Linked DNA regions of Homo sapiens. The protein of the gene in region 2 purifies or fractionates together with the protein of the main gene of each other region. This does not show direct contact. Each region holds a gene or a part of one and is shown on either strand. Other genes may lie near its edges.

Evidence for each region.
Region 1: the proteins of TLNRD1 (region 2) and ZNF784 purify together in Homo sapiens (co-immunoprecipitation; one large-scale study listed by IntAct). This does not show direct contact.

Annotation. Positions count from the first base shown.
Region 1 is NC_000019.10:55,621,767-55,625,904, forward strand, and holds the start of ZNF784 (zinc finger protein 784), read right to left. Parts: upstream 2,801-4,138; 5' UTR 2,796-2,800; coding exon 2,718-2,795; intron 879-2,717; coding exon 1-878. UniProt on the Homo sapiens protein: May be involved in transcriptional regulation.
Region 2 is NC_000015.10:80,999,606-81,003,722, forward strand, and holds the start of TLNRD1 (talin rod domain-containing protein 1), read left to right. Parts: upstream 1-1,317; 5' UTR 1,318-2,536; coding exon of another isoform or gene 2,537-2,666; coding exon 2,667-3,755; 3' UTR 3,756-4,117. Other genes in the region: umcharacterized LOC128071545, read left to right, coding at 2,537-2,674. UniProt on the Homo sapiens protein: Actin-binding protein which may have an oncogenic function and regulates cell proliferation, migration and invasion in cancer cells.

The sequences.
Region 1 (4,138 bases), on a different chromosome or scaffold from region 2:
ACCTTCACCTTCGCGGTCTCCCCCCGCCCCTCCTCCGCAGGGTCCCCTACCCCACACCCGCTCCCCGACCCCTCAGCCGCCGACGAGCCCAGCTGGCCTCCAGAGTCTCCCAGCCCCGGCCCCGGCCCGTGGAAGTGGGTGCGCTGGTGCTTGCGGAAGTTGGAGGAGTTGTTGAAGGTGCGGTCGCAGAGCGTGCAGCGGAACGGGCGCTCGCCAGTGTGGATGCGGGCGTGGCCGCTAAGCACCGAGGACTGGGTGAAGCCCTTGCCGCAGATGCCGCAATGGTATGGCCGCTCGCCAGTGTGCACGCGCTCGTGGTCTCGCATGTCTGAGGAGCGGCGGAAGGGCTTGGCGCAGAACCTGCAGGCAAAAGGCTTCCCCACCGCTGCGCCCGCCGCCGCCGCCGCCATCACCACCTCCGCCCTCTCCGGGGCCACCCCGGGCCTCTGTTCTGCAACGGCCGCTGTGTCCGGAGGCCTCCGAGAGGTGCCCGGCTCCACCCCGTGCCGGTGCTGGTGCCGGAGCAGGGGCGCCAAGGCCTTGAAGGCGCGGGGGCAGAGCGCGCAGCGGTAGGGCCGCTCCCCCGTGTGCAAGCTGTAGTGCGCGCGCAGGCTGGCGGGGCCCGGGCAGCTGTGGCCGCACACGTGGCACCGGCTCGGGTCCCCACCCTGCCCGCCTCCCTCGGCCCCAGCCAAGTGGCCATGTTCGTGGAACAGCAGCTCGGAAACCAGCCGGAAGGCAGCAGGGCACAAGGCACAGTGGAAAGAACCTGGCTCCGGGGGCTCAGGGACCAGCGTGGTGTCCGTCACCTTCACCACCTGGATCTCGATGAGGTCACTCGGGGGTGTGCCAGGCCGGCAGTCATCAGGCACCAGGACCTGGGCAAGAGGAGAAGAAAGAGGAGCCTGTGGAACCTGCCTCAGGACCGCCCCAGCACGCCCCAATTATTAAAGCTTGGGCTCCTCTGTTATTTTCAGACAGGGCCTCACTCTGTTGCCCTGGCGCGATCGTGGCTCATTGCAACCTTGACCTCCTGGGCTCAAGCGATCCTCCCACTTCATCTCCCTGAGTAGCTGGGATTACAGGCATGCACCACCACATCCAGCTAGTTAAAAAAAAATTATTTCTGGCTGGGCACGGTGGCTCAGGCCTGTAATACCAGCACATTGGGAGGCTGAGGTAGGCAGATCACCTGAGGTCAGGAGTTCGAAACCAGCCTGGCCAACATGGCAAATACCGTTTCTACTAAAAATGCAAAAATTAGCCAGGTGTTGTGGCTGCTGCCTGTAATCCCAGCTACTCGGGAGACTAAGACACGAGAATCGCTTGAACCCAGGAGGTGGAGGTTGCAGTGAGATGTGATCATGCCACTGCCCTCCAGCTCAGGCGACAGAACAAGACTCCATCTTAGACAGCAAAACAAACAAAAATTATTATTATTATTTTTAATGTAGAGGGAGTCCCACTATGTTGCCCAGGCTGGTCTCCAACTACTGGGCTCAAGAGATCCTTCTGGCTCTGCCTCCTAAAGTGCTGGGATTGCAGGCGTGAGCCGCCGCGCCCGGCCCATCCTCCAGGATTCTGTTGTATCCTCATCAACATTTCCTCTCCTGTCCAAAATATATCATGGATCCCACCTTTTGTCCTCCACCCTAGTTAAAGCCCCATCACTTGGCGCCTCCAAAATTGAAAAACCCAAGGGCATCTCTGTTCCTATTTCTGCTGGCTTGTAACCCACCTCCCAGGAATAGCCTGAAGGTCTTTTGAAAATGTAAATCAGATCAAGTCATTTTTCGCACTCAAAACCCTCCAGTGGCTCCAAATGACTTATCCCAAATCGTCACTATAATATCTGTGGCGATGTAGCTCCACTTATCTCTCTGACCCCAGCTTAAACATAAGCCGGCACCCAGCTGACTTCTCTCGTCTAAATTTAGCTGCCCCACCCCTACTCTTGGCTCAATTTATAGAAATTGGCTCAATTTTTATTTCCTTTATAGAACATATCACAGTAACTCTCCTTTATTGTCTCTCTCCTCTCAAGAGACTGCAGGCTCCAAAAGAACACAACCCTTGTCTGTCTTGGTCACTTCTCTATTTACAGAGCCGAAGTAGGAGCTCAGTAAATGTTTGTTGAATGAATGAATGTCCTCAATTAGTCTAATTCTGAGTGGGGTAACGTGGAGGAAGTTCCAAAGTCACCTAGACCACCCACTTCTACCCCCAAATTCTCCCTTGGGCATTCGAGAAGCATCACTAAGACCCTTGAAGAATTATCCCCTACCCCGACATAGGTGCTCCAATCATAATCCCCCACGTTTTTCAGGGTCACCTTCCCAACCTTCTACCCTAGAATTAGCCCTAGAATTTATGAGGCCCCGCCCCTTACAAGGCTCCACCCAAATTATGCAAATTATCCCTGGTAAGCCCCCTTCCCTGGACCCAAACCCGTCCCACAAGACAACACCGTCCTCAGACTCCGCCCCCATCCAGGCCCCGCCCACCACCCATAGGTCCCTCCCCCACCCCGCCCACCATGACATAGTCTCCTCCCCTGCCCCGCCCCTCGCGAAACCACAAGAAGCCCCACCCCCAGGGCCATAGCACTAAATACCTCCCTCGCCCACCCCCTCATAGGCCACGCCCCGGACCCGCCCCCCACACTACGACCTCCTCCCACCTCGAGCCCCACGCCCAGGCCCCTTCCTTGCCCGCACCAGGTCCAGTGGCTCCTGGGATCGCGACTCCGGAGTCGGTGAGCTCCGACTCTGGGCCTCTGGGCGCGCAGCGGCCATCTTGTGCCCAAGCCCCGCCCCCAAGGCCAATGTTCGCTCTGAAAGGGGGTGGGGCTCGAACTGGCGTAAGAGCTACTGCGCAGGCGCAGTGCGGGGCTGCGAGGGGGCGTGGTGCAGCAGGGGGCGTGGCGGGGCGGGGCGTGGCGGCTGAGCCCGGGAGAATGTGAGTTGTTCCCTCTCTAATTACCTGTCTGTCCCTCCGAGGGTACGCTCTGTGTGGCGCTAGGATGCCTGTAACACCCTGGGAACAAATCCGAACGTTCCTTCTAAACCAACGCAGGCCGACTCGAGGCTCTGGCTGTCAGGGGAACCTCAGCAGAACTGAAGAAGCTTTGCTTTGTTTCCACGGTAAACGTTTTTGTGATTACCTCTGCACTGCTCATGACAACGTAATGACGCCAAGTTTATAAACGTCGGTGTAGGCCGGGTGCGGTGGCTCATGCCTGTATTCTCAGCTACTCGGGAGGCTGAGGTGGGAGGATCGCTTGAGGCCGGGAGGTCGAGGCTGCAGTGAGCCATGATCTCGCCACTGCATGCAGCCTGAGTGACAGAGACTCTGTCAAAAAAAAAAAAAAAAAAGGCAGTGTGGAGAAAAATATTCAGTAAACAGCAACACAGGTGGTCCTGGGAGGACGCAAAAACCCGCAAGCTGATGTTATGTTTGGGAGGAAAGAGCTCAAAAACGCGGGGTTTTCAGCAGCATCAAGGACGGGGCTCTTCTTAGCTGCCCCGTTTAGTCATTCTGGTGGTATCACCTTGGATAAGTCACTACACTTCTCTGGACCATTTCTCTTTCTTTTGTGTAGCACTGTAGAAGCATTGTGACAAACCACTGAGAAGAGACATGGAAGAGTTTGGAAACATCTTTAAATAGTTTTCTTGAAAGGGCAGGATAGGAGATACTTAAACATGATCCTAAGCATGATCATTTCATTCATAAATATATATGAAATTATATTTTGTGATATGTTGGTATAAAATAAAGATAAACACCACTTAGGCTGAATTATCTCCTCCTCCTCCTTTCTTCTTCTTTTATAGAGATGGGGATCTTGCTGTCTTGCCTTGCCCAGGCTGGTCTTGAACTCCTAGCCTTAAGCGATCCTTCTGCCTTGGTCTTCCAAAGCTATATTTCCCTTCTTTTCTTTTGATTTTAAAATAATTTTTTTTTTTTTGAGATGGAGTCTCACTCTGTCGCCCAGGCTGGAGTGCAGTGGCATGATCATGGCTCACTGCAACCTCTGCCTCCCGGGCTCAAGCGATTCTCCTGCCTCAGCCTCTTGAGTAGCTGGGATTACAGGTGCCCGCCACCATGCCCGGCTAATTTTTGTATTTTTAGTATA
Region 2 (4,117 bases):
TAATTTATTAATAGCATGTCTCACAGTTCATTCTCAGAAATGCTTGGATATGGCCGATAAATTGAAACGTCATCCTAGTTAAAAGTAACGTTTTTAACTGGCTGGAGAAAGGTGACTTGGGGTTCTAGGAAGGGACAGAGGAACAAACATTCTGTTGGCTCAGCACGCCCAGCCTGTGTTGGGCTGGGCACCTTAGAGGACCTGTTTCAGGACTGCGTGACTGGCGTTTTGCTGGGAGTAGCCCAGGTGTTTTAACCACTTCCTGAAGAACAAGGTTCGGTAAAAAGAGGCTGGGGCGTAGGCGTGGGTTCCTGTCCCTGCCATATGCTGTCTTCCTGATCTTCGGAAGTCACTTCAAGCACCTGATCATCAGTTTCCTTATCTGTAAAACTGGAGTAGTAATGTTTCCCTCCAAACGCCGTCGTATTTAATTCATTTAACAGCAGCCACTATTATTCCATTATACAGACGAATAAATAGACGTTATGAGAGGGCAAAGTGCGCTGATCAGGGCTCATAATAATTCTAACAGCTACTGTTTAGGAACCAAGTACTCAAGCAGCCTGTGCACAATCTCTAATTTCTAGAAGAGAAGACGGATACTTGGAAAGAGAACTTGAACAATGTCATGGAACTCATAAATGGCTTGAGAAAGGCTGATCCTAGGAAATCTGCTTCAGAACCCGCGCTCTCACTGCATAAGGCGTATTTCAAGGGAGGAACGGGCAGGCATCTAGCACCACTCTTCGGACTCCCCATCCAGTGCTCTTTTCCTCTTTTCGTTACACTGCACTGCTGGTCGGAAACCCATCGTGGAAGTGGATCAAACACAACAAAGGGCAGGGGGCGTTGGAAAACCGGGCGAAGTCGCGCAGACCGAGACGACCCACCGGCCCCAGCAAATCACCAGGGGCCGAAATCCAGTGTCCTCCTCCCTTCAGCCCAGAAGCCAGGTCACCTTTTAGACTTGCTCTCTTGGCGGGGAGGAAGCGTGGAGCCCCCTGGTCCGGCTAAGAGCTTACGTAAGGCCCGCGGGCGGCTGCGCCCCGGTCTCCCATGGGTGTGCGCAGAGCCCCCGGGCCGGAGCAGGCCTTCCCCTGTCCGCTCCCCCAGTCTCTCGGCCCAGGACCACGGGGGAGTTCAGGACCACCGGCCCCACGCCGGCAGCGTCCGCGTTGGGCGGCGGCGTCCCCCGCAGCCACCCAGCTTCCCGGGGGAGGAGCAGCGCATCGCGCAAGCATCCGGGAGCGGCGGAGGGGGCGGGAGGAAGGGCGAGAGGAGGAAGCGGGATTTAAACGAAAGGCGGTGACGCCACACAAAAGATTTCTATAGGCTCCAGGGAGGTTACGGCCGAGGCGGCGGCGGCGGCGAGCCCGGGGGCGAGGCGCGGACGGGAACAGGAAAAGCCTCCGGCAGCCCCTGCGGGCGGCGGCGCAGCCACGGCCGCGCTCCGAGGTGAAGCCGCGCGCGGAGAGGAAGCGGGTGTTTTCCCCTCTGCCTTTCGGCCCCCGCCCTTCCTTTCAGTTTCTGCCCGCTCGCTCGGAAGTTGGCGGTTGACAAAAATGGCAGGAGCCGGGGCCCGGGCCGGTTGCCGCAGCGCCGCGGGGACCTTCTGAGTTGGCCCGGTGGCAGGGAGACTCGTGCAGGGGCGTCCGATGCGCGGGGCCCGGGGCCTCGGGAGAGCTCAGCTGCTGCGGGCCCCAGACGAGGCGACAGGGATGGACTTGCGTAGACAGCCAGCGCCGGGCCGCCGGGCGCGCGGTCTGGGAGGGCGTGCCGCCGCGGCGCCGGGCCGCGCTCTGTGAACCGGCGAGGCGGGAAGGGGCCGCCGTGGTGCTCGGCACGCCCGGGCGTGTGGCGGGCGGGCGAGAGCTTGAGCGCGATCCGGGCGGCCGCTGTGCGCAATCAGTGCAGGCTCCCGCCCGACTCTGACTCGGCGCGGCCGCGACAGTGCCGGCCACACCCTCTGCCCCGCTGCCGCCGGCGCCGCTTCCCAAGAGCTGGAGGCAGGAGATGCGCCCGGGGCGGCCGCGCGTCCCAGAGAGCCAGCCCCGGCCGCCGTCGCGGGGAAGTGCCGCCTGGTGGGGTCACGGCGCCTGAAGCCCACGTGCGCCGCCGAGCCCGAGGTGGCCTCGAGCGCGGCGGCTGACAGCACAGCCCGCCTGAGCTGCCTCCCGCGCTCCTCCCCGAGGAAAGGATTTTGATTTCAAAGAAAGGAAGGAAGGAAGGACAACTCCCAGCTTCCCCGTCCCGCCCTCCCCGCTCCGAGGGCCGCGCCAGGCCATGCCCAAGAAGGCGGCGGCGGCGGCGAACCAGCAGAAGGGACTTTCCTGGCAGCCCGGCGACGAGGAGCGCGGACAGTGAGTTTGCTCTGCCCCGGTTCATGGTTCCTGCAAGCCCTCTAGGAGGCCGAAAGCTGCAGCCCCTCCCCTTGCCCCGAAGAGCCTTCCGCGTTCTCTCGCCCTCGGGCCCACCCCGCGCCGCCCGGGCTCCCGCCGCCGCAGCCCAGTGCCCTCTGCCCGCGGCGGTGGATGGCATGATGGTGCGGGGAAGGCACCGCGGCCTTGGCCAGCTGAGTCGCGACGGCCGCCGGGGCGGCGGCAGTGGCCGCGGCAGCGGCGGTGGTAGCGGGCTCCCCAGCGGCATGCCAGTGCCCCCCGGGCGCGATGGCTAGCGGCAGCGCCGGGAAGCCCACTGGCGAGGCGGCTTCTCCGGCTCCTGCGAGCGCCATCGGCGGGGCCAGCTCGCAGCCGCGGAAGAGGCTGGTATCCGTCTGCGACCACTGCAAGGGCAAGATGCAGCTGGTGGCTGACCTGCTGCTGCTGTCGAGCGAGGCGCGGCCCGTGCTCTTCGAGGGCCCCGCCTCCTCTGGTGCCGGCGCCGAGTCCTTCGAGCAGTGCCGGGACACCATCATCGCGCGCACCAAGGGGCTCTCCATCCTCACCCACGACGTGCAGAGCCAGCTCAACATGGGCCGCTTCGGGGAGGCGGGGGACAGCCTGGTGGAGCTGGGCGACCTGGTGGTGTCGCTGACCGAGTGCTCGGCCCACGCGGCCTATCTGGCCGCTGTGGCCACGCCGGGCGCCCAGCCCGCGCAGCCGGGCCTGGTGGACCGCTACCGCGTGACGCGATGCCGCCACGAGGTGGAGCAGGGTTGCGCCGTGCTGCGCGCCACGCCGCTGGCCGACATGACGCCGCAGCTGCTGCTGGAGGTGTCGCAGGGCCTGTCGCGCAACCTCAAGTTCCTGACGGACGCGTGCGCCCTGGCCAGTGACAAGTCACGGGACCGCTTTTCGCGGGAGCAGTTCAAGCTGGGCGTCAAGTGCATGAGCACCAGCGCGTCGGCGCTGCTGGCCTGCGTGCGCGAGGTGAAGGTGGCGCCCAGTGAGCTGGCGCGCAGCCGCTGTGCGCTCTTCAGCGGGCCCCTGGTGCAGGCAGTGAGCGCCCTGGTAGGCTTCGCCACCGAGCCGCAGTTCCTGGGTCGCGCGGCAGCTGTGAGCGCCGAGGGCAAGGCGGTGCAGACCGCCATCCTGGGCGGCGCCATGAGCGTGGTGTCGGCCTGCGTGCTCCTGACCCAGTGCCTCAGGGATCTGGCGCAGCACCCCGACGGGGGCGCCAAGATGTCGGACCACAGGGAGAGGCTGAGGAACTCGGCCTGCGCCGTGTCTGAAGGCTGCACCCTGCTATCTCAGGCTTTAAGGGAGAGGTCTTCGCCCAGGACTTTACCGCCAGTGAATTCCAATTCTGTGAATTAGCACCCCACCCCCATACCCCTTCTTCCACCCCCAGACTAAAGGAAGATACTTACTCTCTGCCCCTCTCCATTTATACCAAAGAAATCATAGGTGAAACCCCCTACCCTCCCCAACGTTAAATGCTCGAGAGGAATCTTCCACAAGGCAGGGCCATGCACGCAACCTGCACACGCACTTGGAGGGCCCAGGTGTCTCTCCACCAGCCCCCATGCAGTAGGGACTGGAAGATATGTCATCTGCTGGTTGTGTTATCACTCCCACCCCCTACCCCAGCCCGTCTTCCGGAATTTCTCAACTAAATTTCATTATTGGGCAGGAAGGAGGTCATGGGTTCATTTCATTTTTGTTTTTTGTGTTTTTAA